3 linked regions of the Homo sapiens genome follow. The protein of the gene in region 1 purifies or fractionates together with the protein of each later gene. This does not show direct contact. Each region holds a gene or a part of one and is shown in the gene's direction. Other genes may lie near its edges. The genes, in order: LRRIQ1, CSNK1G2 and UNC5B.

The links.
Region 2: the proteins of LRRIQ1 (region 1) and CSNK1G2 purify together in Homo sapiens (affinity purification with mass spectrometry; 2 studies listed by BioGRID and IntAct, with this or other methods). This does not show direct contact.
Region 3: the proteins of LRRIQ1 (region 1) and UNC5B purify together in Homo sapiens (affinity purification with mass spectrometry; 2 studies listed by BioGRID and IntAct, with this or other methods). This does not show direct contact.

The regions. Positions count from the first base shown.
Region 1 is NC_000012.12:85,056,827-85,060,481, forward strand, and holds part of LRRIQ1 (leucine-rich repeat- and IQ domain-containing protein 1), read left to right. Parts: coding exon 1-358; intron 359-3,655.
Region 2 is NC_000019.10:1,979,028-1,981,849, forward strand, and holds the end of CSNK1G2 (casein kinase I), read left to right. Parts: coding exon 1-66; intron 67-135; coding exon 136-221; intron 222-291; coding exon 292-376; intron 377-467; coding exon 468-616; intron 617-724; coding exon 725-808; coding exon of another isoform or gene 809-883; coding exon 884-990; intron 991-1,121; coding exon 1,122-1,176; 3' UTR 1,177-2,311; downstream 2,312-2,822. UniProt on the Homo sapiens protein: Serine/threonine-protein kinase. Casein kinases are operationally defined by their preferential utilization of acidic proteins such as caseins as substrates. It can phosphorylate a large number of proteins. Participates in Wnt signaling.
Region 3 is NC_000010.11:71,295,978-71,299,632, forward strand, and holds part of UNC5B (netrin receptor UNC5B isoform 1 precursor), read left to right. Parts: intron 1-600; coding exon 601-765; intron 766-1,931; coding exon 1,932-2,113; intron 2,114-3,134; coding exon 3,135-3,300; 3' UTR 3,301-3,655. UniProt on the Homo sapiens protein: Receptor for netrin required for axon guidance. Mediates axon repulsion of neuronal growth cones in the developing nervous system upon ligand binding.

The DNA.
Region 1 (3,655 bases):
AGGTAGACATGCTCCTTGTGAGGGCTTGAGTAACTATAATGCAGAAAGCTCCATGGTATCTAAAGAAGTCAACTCTCTTAAATCTGAGATTAGAAATATTTCAGAAAAATGCCATGAAAATGCACCTGAACCTGATAGCATGACCTGCTGTGTATCAGAGTCAACCCTTCTATATTCTATTGAAGAAAGGAGACTAGCCTGGATAAAATCATTTAAACCTTGGCTTGAAATTTTCAAGCAAAATCAACAAAAGAAAATTGTTAGAAGAAAGAGACCTGTGAAATGCCCAGCCAACATGACACCCGCTTTGGATAAACTGGAAATTCTTCGATGTGGCCCTTGGGATACTTTACAGCAGGTATTTCTAATTTTATAATAATTTTTCACATTTAATTACAATTAGCTCTTTAAAGTATAACTTTTCAGATCTTAGAAAAAGAAATATTTTGTATACAAGAATTGTCTCTTGTTTAATAAAGTTATGAATGAAATATTACCCCATTTGGGAGGGGATATATCTCAACAAATTGTTCGAGGCATCTTCCCTAAGTGACACTCTATAAAAAGCTTTGATTTATATTTTTTAATATCTTGAAGCCTGTGTTCAAGGGCCCTCCAGTCATTATTTAAACCTCTAAGAATGGAAGCATATAGAAAGTTAGGGTTAGAATTATAGTAGGAAACTCCTAAGTAAACAGAAGTTTGCTTTAGACTTGAGCCACCACACCACCTAGTGGCTGCTTTTGGAATAAAGTGGATTTTATGTCCATGACCACTGTTGTGAAAGAAGGGCTTGCATGATAGAAGACCCTGAAGACCCTAGAATTCCCATCTAGCAACAATTATTTAGCGTGTGCTATTTAAAGGTGGTGCATATATGTCTGAAATGTAAAATAGTTGTCATCAAATGTTACTAATTTTATATGGTTATGGAGAACATAGTTTCAACCAAAATTAAGACACAGAAACTAATAAACGTATAGAAAAAGAGAAAATAATATTTTAAACAGTGTAACACTAGAAAGCACTTATGATTAAAATACATATATTTAGCTAAGGCCTGAAAGTCAAAAGTATTCAATAAAGTTTATTTAGTTTCTTGATAGACTTTCTTGCTAGACAGATGCCTAGGAGAAAGAACAATCATATTAATAGATAAACATTATTTTGTTTATTCACTCAGCAAATATTCATCTATCCAATAAGATGATCAATATTTATTGGTTGACTAATAAACAAAGAAAACCCAGTCTTTTACGGAGCTTAAACACACATAAATACGTTATTATGGATCTTGAGAATTGCTGTAAATAAGGCTTCAGAGTATCCTGTGAGAGAATAATAAAATAGTGGGATTTTGAAGATATTTCTGGTATATGAAATAGCAATATAAGAGATGAGAACTGGGACATACACTTTTAAGTGTCTTTTATTTCCTGGGTAATGTATTTGCCACATCTGTCAGGTCTGCAGAGCTACATATAGAATCTCTCATCTGCTCTTCTCCAATTTTTTCCTTGCGCATGTTATCTCTGGAATCATGTTTTAGCACTTTTCTTTCTCTAACATATTGCTGCAGGCCTTCCAATATGATAACATTAGCAATTATTTAGTTTTCCTCATGAGTATCTGTTAAAGCTAGGCAAGAGTGATGGCTTCATGCCTACAGTGTACTTGCTTCAAAAGTGAAAATGAAGTTACAGAAACAGTAGTGTTCCTCCCTTGCTTTGTAGGTCTCTGTTCTGTCCAATGAGAAGGAAGTTAAGATGTGTGAGCCTCTTTCTCCTTGGCATTTCTTCTCCAGCTGACTCTCTGTTCCTTCTTTCGAACGTTTGTCAATTTACATAAAATGATAATTAACTCTTTCTTTTACTTCTTAGAGCAAGGCCTGGCAAACTATTAAAATCTATAGAATACCTGAAGCTTTGTAGAAATGTGGATTCTGATTCAATAGGTCTGGTGATCCACCCATTCTCCATTCTTGCAATGATTCTAAATGATGATGTTGGTGCTGGTGAGTGGACTAATCTGAGTAGCAGTGTTCTAAAGGGCACCATAATCCTCTCATCCCTTCTTAAAGCAACTATCTCAAGCTTTTAATTTAGCTTTGAAGCATCAAATAGGCAGTATAAAGATGAAAAATACATGTGAATGTGCCATATAGATGCTAAAATGTTAAGAAAATATCATCTTTTGTTACCAGACAACTCCTGTAAAGATTCTGTTTGGTAGATGGCTTACCATGGTGTCTTTATTCACCACTGTTACTACTGATCCATGGCTCAGTTTCTTTTTGACTTTCTGATCTTTTAGCTTCAGATCTTTATCCTTATCCTGATCACTCACTGCCATCCTTGGGATGTCCTTCTGGAGATCAACTTAGAAAAGTTTATTGTCTCCCAGTAATGCATTCATTTTGCTTACATTAATCTCTTACTTTGAGACTTCAAGACATAAATCGGATCTTCGTGTTGTTCATACTTCTTTACACATTGCCAGGCAAATAAAGATACTCCTCAAGTTACAATGAAGTTACATCCAGATAAACCTACATAGCTTACAACTGGGCAAAATCATCTGGCAACGTGGTACACTGTAGAGTATTTGTTGTTTACCCTCATGATCATGTGACTGACTGGGAGATGCAGCTCCCTGCCGTTGCCTGACATTGTGAGAAATGATCATACTTTATATTGCTAGCTTGGGAAAAGATCAAAATTCAAAATTTGAAGTATGGTTTCAACTAAATGTCTATTGATCTCACACCATCATAAAATTTAAAAAAAATTCTACGCTAAACTATCTCTTGTCAGGAACTATCTGTAATGACTTTCATTACCTGATTATAGGATGGATGAGTGGGGGGATGAATCAATTGATGAATAAAGAATTCCAGTCGAAATATTTAATGTAGAGGACGGGTTGATGGGTGCAGCAAACCACCATGGCACGTGGCACGTGTATACCTATATAACAAAACCGCATGTTCTGCACATGTATCCCATGTATACATGTAACCTAAAGTATAATTAAAAAAAAGAACTGCAATTGAATGTTAATCTTATCTCCTCATTACTACCAGTTTCACAGTTTAGATAAAGTATATTGACTGAAGAGGAAATGAATGTAAAATTACTGAAGTGTAGCTTATTAGACTACTAAGTTCTATGTTAAGACTGTTTCTAATTTTATTTCTGCCACTTATGGCTGTGACACCTTATGCAAATGCTTGACCTGTATGAGCCTCAGTTTTGTCTTTCACAAACTGGAACAGCAATATCTATTATATAGGATCACTGAGTTTTAAAATGCTGTATGTAAAGAACATGGCCCAGGGCTTCTAATACCACTTGTCAAATGTGGGTCTCAAGCAAGCAAAGAGAAGGCAAATGGATTGTTTTCGAGGGCTGCTTAATAGCCCGTTTCATCAAAAAAGTTATAAAGTTGAAAATACTAGACCATTGGGTTATATGCAGTAATATCTCAAAAGAGAAGACTAAAGAGCAATAATTATGGGTAATGAATATATTTTTATTTTTTATTTTTAAATGTTTTAACTATTTTTTATTTTTGGCATTTTGCTACTAATGGTAACTTGTATTAAGTAATAACCACCACAAAAAAGGGCACTGAGCTTAAGGATTTTTAAATATTT
Region 2 (2,822 bases), on another chromosome or scaffold:
ACCGCGAGCACAAGAGCCTGACGGGCACGGCGCGCTACATGAGCATCAACACGCACCTGGGCAAGGGTGAGCTGCGCGCGCGCGGCGGGGGGCGGGCGCCCGGACCCCGCTGAGGCTGCGCCCCTGTCCCCGCAGAGCAGAGCCGCCGCGACGACCTGGAGGCGCTGGGCCACATGTTCATGTACTTCCTGCGCGGCAGCCTCCCCTGGCAGGGGCTCAAGGTGGGCGAGGAGGCCGGGCAGGCGGGCGGGGACGCAGGGCGGGAGCAAGGCTGACCACAGACCCCCGCAGGCCGACACGCTCAAGGAGCGGTACCAGAAGATCGGGGACACCAAACGCGCCACGCCCATCGAGGTGCTCTGCGAGAACTTCCCAGGTAAGGGGTCCCTGCGCCCCCGCCCTGTGCCCCCCACCCCCCACCCCCCACCCCCACCCCCGCCGAGGCCCCGCTGGCGCTCTCTCTGCAGAGGAGATGGCCACGTACCTGCGCTATGTGCGGCGCCTGGACTTCTTCGAGAAGCCCGACTATGACTACCTGCGGAAGCTCTTCACCGACCTCTTCGACCGCAGTGGCTTCGTGTTCGACTATGAGTACGACTGGGCCGGGAAGCCCCTGGTAGGTGGGGGGGTGCCGGTATGTGGGAGCGGGGGACCGGGAAACTGCCCTGAGGGAGATGGGAACCGGCGCTGCAGCCCATCCTGACCCCTGCTCCCTCACCCACAGCCGACCCCCATCGGCACCGTCCACACCGACCTGCCCTCCCAGCCTCAGCTCCGGGACAAAACCCAGCCGCACAGCAAAAACCAGGTGAGGCCCGGGCGGGACCGACCGCCCCAGGGAGGGGCATGGGCGGCCAGCGTGACCCCCTACTGCCCCCACCAGGCGTTGAACTCCACCAACGGGGAGCTGAATGCGGACGACCCCACGGCCGGCCACTCCAACGCCCCGATCACAGCGCCTGCAGAGGTGGAGGTGGCCGATGAAACCAAGTAAGGCTCTGGGGCGGTGCCTTCGGGGAGGTGGGGGTGCCCTGGGTCCCCATGGGGGTGGGAGGGCCTGAGGCCTGGGCTGCCCCCGCCCTGCACCCCGGTCCTCCTACCTGAGCCACTGCCCTCCTCAGATGCTGCTGTTTCTTCAAGAGGAGAAAGAGAAAATCGCTGCAGCGACACAAGTGACCCTGGGCGCGTGCAGCCCCCTGAATCTTCTCCGTGCAGCCCCTTGGGGCGCGACCTTGTGCGAGGCCCTCGGGGCCCACCCACAGCGGCCCAGGGCCAGACCCTGGCTGGAAGCCAGAACGCAGACTGCAGGGGCCGCGCCTGGCTCAGGCGGCCCCACCCCCGGGACGTGGGGTCACTTCCTTCATGTAAGACTTTGGCCGAAATTTCTACACCTGTGTCTAGTCCTCCCCTCCAAGAGCATTAACTATTTAAAACAAGGAAAAGAGGAAAAAAAAAACAGAGGCCCGCCCTACCCCACTCCTGCCCCTCCGTTTCTTTGCTGAAGTGAGTAGTGTGATCCTGGAGGCCCCCCGGCCTGGCCCCGCCCCGCCAGCCGCCCCCGTTAGCGTCATAAAGTCCAGCTTGTCTCCCTCGATCCAAAGGCCGTTTTCTCGAGGGGAGGGCAGGCCCGGCCTGGAGGGGTGCTGTGGAGCTGTCTTGCCCAGGCCCTCCTGGGAGGGGGACAGGCATTGTTGCCAGGGGTGAGGCCGTGCCCCAGGCCTCCCCGAAACCAAAGGGGAAGGCAGGGGTGGGGCCGTGGCTGAAGCCGGCTCCCCAACCAAAATGCTGCACCAAAGCTCGGGCGCCGCGGGCACGGCTGCTGCAGTCTCTTCCCAGCCTGGCCCTGGCAAGGGGCGGGTGGGCGCTGCCAGGCGGGTGCTTCTCGACGCACTTGCTCCCGGAGGCTGCGCCCCGGCGCCTGGAACCCGAGGTGGGAGGACCGGTTGGTGTCACCCTGCTCGGCCCTCAGCCCTGCCGCGTGGGGCGCGTGGGCACGGAGCTTCCTGCCTCTCTGCTCCGACACCCGGCAAGCAGCCGGAGACAAAACGCCTTAAAGCCCCCGGCCCAGCCCTGCAGGTATATTGCAGGGGCCTGGGGGCGGCCCTGGACTGGCGGGCGGTTCCCCAGTGGGGTGCCCTGGAGGCTGCCGGGCAGAGTGGAGCAGCTTGGGGCCGTGCCCAGGGCGGTGGCTGTGAGTCTAGTTTTTGCTTTACCAAGTGTACAGAAATGGCATTTACGTTTCTCTGATGCTCCCTTGAAGCCATAGAATTTAGGGGCTTTTTTAAAAAAATAAAAGAAAAATGAAACCAAACCCAAGTGTAGAGGGATTTGTCTGGGCTTTCCACGAAGCTTGACCTGGAACGGGCGTTGCTTCCATCCCCATCCTGCCTGTCCGGGACGAGTCCGGAGCGGCTGGCGGCCTCCGGTAACAGAAACCGACTGATGAGGCGGAAGGTAAGGAAGATGGAAGCAGAGGGCAGAGCTGGGCTCTGTCTGGGGAGAGGGCAGGAGACGAGTGTTCACGTACCATGGAAAGGGGAAGTCACACACATGCGACTTGGCCCCGGGGGTCCCGTTCCCCGACACTACACAAATATACCTGAAAGCCTCAGCGACGGGGCCCAGGCAGGATGGTCCTGGCTGCTCTGACGGCGGAAGGCCTCCTTGACTCCCTCTGTTCACGCAGCAGGGCAGAAAACATCTCCACGGGGGCCACGACACTGTGAAGGGAATCAGCAGTAGCTCCCAGAAGAACAGCGGAAACTGCAGGCAGGTGAAGACCTTGGCAGCACTAGCCCCGGCTCCGCCCCGTGCCTTCTCCC
Region 3 (3,655 bases), on another chromosome or scaffold:
GGATGGGGAGGGGCACCACTTAAGGGCTGCCCGGGAAGCCCAGCTCCCTCCCGGGCCCTGCCTCCTAGCTCTGTCCTGTGGCCTTACCCCTCCCTGGATCTCTCACTGTCTCTGTCTCCTCCCACCCCAGTCTCTAGGCTTTCAGCCATCCCCAGGCACGTCCCCAAATTCAGGGCAATGGGCAGCCACATGCACACTTCTGCCCTGTCACACCCTCACACGCACAGACGACTATGCCCTTCATCCTCACAGAGGCTCCTCACCCTTCAGGGCATGCCCTCCTGGCAGACTGCCCATCTCATCTCTGACAGCCACAGCCCGCTGCCCACCCAGCAGCGCCTGAGACCACAAGGCCCCCTAGCCCCTGACACACACACACCTGTGCCTTTCCCTCCCCCACCTACCCACCCTCAGCTCCCTTCTGGAACTGAGGGCCTGACACCAACTCAGCTGGCTAGCTTAGGGCACTTGACCCCTCCCTATCTGGGTGGAGAGGCCTGAACTGCCCCCCAAAGCTCCCAACCCTCCCTGAGCCTCCATTTCTATGAGGACAGGGCAGGCTGGCCTTGCCTGCCTGGTCCTGACCCCCTCCTCCTGCAGGAGATCCCCTTCTATCACATTTGGAGTGGCAGCCAGAAGGCCCTCCACTGCACTTTCACCCTGGAGAGGCACAGCTTGGCCTCCACAGAGCTCACCTGCAAGATCTGCGTGCGGCAAGTGGAAGGGGAGGGCCAGATATTCCAGCTGCATACCACTCTGGCAGAGGTGAGGGAAGTCGGGGCCACATATTCCAGCTGCACACCACACTGGCGGAGGTGAGGGAAGGGTGGGGCAGATATTCCAGCTGCACACCACGCTGGCGGAGGTGAGGGAAGGGTGGGGCAGATATTCCAGCTGCACACCACGCTGGCGGAGGTGAGGGAAGGGTGGGGCAGATATTCCAGCTGCACACCACGCTGGCGGAGGTGAGGGAAGGGCGGCCAGATATTCCGGCTGCACACCACTCTGGTGGAGGTGAGGGAAGGGCGGCCAGATATTCCGGCTGCACAGCACTGTGGCATAGGTGAGGGAAGGGCCGCCAGATATTCCAGCTGCACACCACGCTGGTGGAGGTGAGGGCCAGAGGATACCTCTAGGGTTTGGGGCTGGGCTGCAGCACACAGAACCCTGTAGTTCCCTCTCACCTCCCAAGTCTGAGCGGGTATCTGGTCATGTTTTTCTAACAAGTGTCATTTATTGATTGAGTGCCATTCACATGCTTGGCATATACCAAAAAACTTACATGATCTCACAAGCACCGGGAGATGCATGACAGATATCATCCCCACCTGGGAGGTGAGAAAGTAGGTTTTAGGAAGGGCAAGGATTTGCACACAGTACACCAGTGGCAAGACTGGATTCGAACCCAGGTTGATGCAAGGACCAGGCCTGTGGTTCTCAACCGTTAAAAATCCGGATTGAGATTTAAAAACCCAGGCCACCCAGGGTGACAACACTAGATCCTCCTCTTGGGGCATTGTAAAGAGCACTGGATACAGGTCTGGACCCAGGTCTGCCACTAACTTGGCATGTGGCCATGAGCAAGCCACTCCCCTTTTCTAGACTTCACTTTCCACCTGTACAAGAGGGTGCATGTGGATTAGACTGTGGCTGGGCCTCCTTGGGGCTTCCTAACCATGAGGCTGCATCTGCATTTGCCTGGGGCCTTAGGTAAGCATGGTGCACCCCCTGAGGCCTGAAGGGTGGCCATGCAGGCCTTGCCCTTGGGAACCGACCCTTCAAGGGAGAAGCCCCTGCCTGAACAGTGGGAGTCTGTCCAGAGGAGGTGGGAGTGACTCAAGGCTCAATGAGCTCACAGTCCAAGGGGAGGGAGGCTGGAGGGCAGATGCCCAGCACTGTGCCCCTCTCACTCTTGGCCCCCACCCTTGCAGACACCTGCTGGCTCCCTGGACACTCTCTGCTCTGCCCCTGGCAGCACTGTCACCACCCAGCTGGGACCTTATGCCTTCAAGATCCCACTGTCCATCCGCCAGAAGATATGCAACAGCCTAGATGCCCCCAACTCACGGGGCAATGACTGGCGGATGTTAGCACAGAAGCTCTCTATGGACCGGTGAGTATCCCAAACCACAGCCCATCCCCATCTGCCTTCGTCCTCAAGGTCTCACAGGGGCAGGCAGGGCAGGCAGCCTGACAGCCACGACCATCTCCCAGACCAGCTGCCCTTTTGCCACCATTTGTGGCAAATCAGCAACTCAGGATTGGATATGCAAAGTTCAAGAATACTGCTCCCTTGAGGAGCATCATGCTCAGAGCACTGGTCCTTGAGCCAGGCAGACTCTCAGACCCTGCTCTTTTCCCATTGTGTGGGGATAATGCTCCACCTGCCCATCTCACCGAACAGCAGGAGACTCAAAGCCAGGGCATCAGCTTGGTGCCATCATTGTCAGCACCTGGTATCTAGGACAGAGAATGTGCTGCGAGATGCTTGCTGACTGACCAAGATACACTTTGGTGTCAAAACTCCTTTGGAGAACCTCAAATGCTGGATAAGTGCTGGATAAATATAAGGCCAATGATAATAAATATTATACTTATTGAAAGATGTGTAATAAACCTGCATTGAGTCTCAAAAAATAAATAAATAAAATATGCTTTAGATAAGACATTTTACTAGAAATGAATAGGACTTACAAAGATGGCTAAGGCTTTATTCCTCCTATCAGGGGAGTTCATGGGAGCAGGAGGGAACACGGGTGGGAGGAATGACCACATGCTAGACGTGGTCATTCTCTCTTGGGGCCAGTGTCTTTCAATGATAATAATGATGATGATGAACAAGATGGTTACATGCTAGAGACAACGCTAGACCCTTACTTTATATGATCTTGGATCTTGCTGAGCGGTAACTGGCATTGTTCCCATTTTAGAGACAAGGAGACTGAGATTCTGAGCCATAGGTTCTGAATTGCCGAGAGCCACACAGACTGCAGCACAGTAGCTGCAATTCAGACCCAGGACAGTGGGACACCAAAGCTCACAGCCTTCCCACTTCCCCTTGTGCCCCTTCACCTCCAGGCTCCGGGGAGGGGCTAAGTGCTTGGGAACCTCAGTGCCCTCCTTCCCTCTGCCAGGTACCTGAATTACTTTGCCACCAAAGCGAGCCCCACGGGTGTGATCCTGGACCTCTGGGAAGCTCTGCAGCAGGACGATGGGGACCTCAACAGCCTGGCGAGTGCCTTGGAGGAGATGGGCAAGAGTGAGATGCTGGTGGCTGTGGCCACCGACGGGGACTGCTGAGCCTCCTGGGACAGCGGGCTGGCAGGGACTGGCAGGAGGCAGGTGCAGGGAGGCCTGGGGCAGCCTCCTGATGGGGATGTTTGGCCTCTGCTTCCTCCCAGTTCACAGCCAGAGTTGCCTCTCCTCCTCCTCTTCCCCAACCCCCAGACCATGACCAGCCTTAGAAAATCCATGTACTCTGTTGTTAGAGGGCCCAGAGTTCCTTCTCCACCCCCGCTCTCTCTCTCTTGGCCTGAGATCTCTGTGCAGGAACCAAGATGGGGCTGAAGCCTCTGGAGGCAGTTGGTTGGGGGCGGGCAGGCAGGAGGCCCTCCCTCCACCCCCCCACCCTCAGCCCGGCAACTTCTGGGTTCCA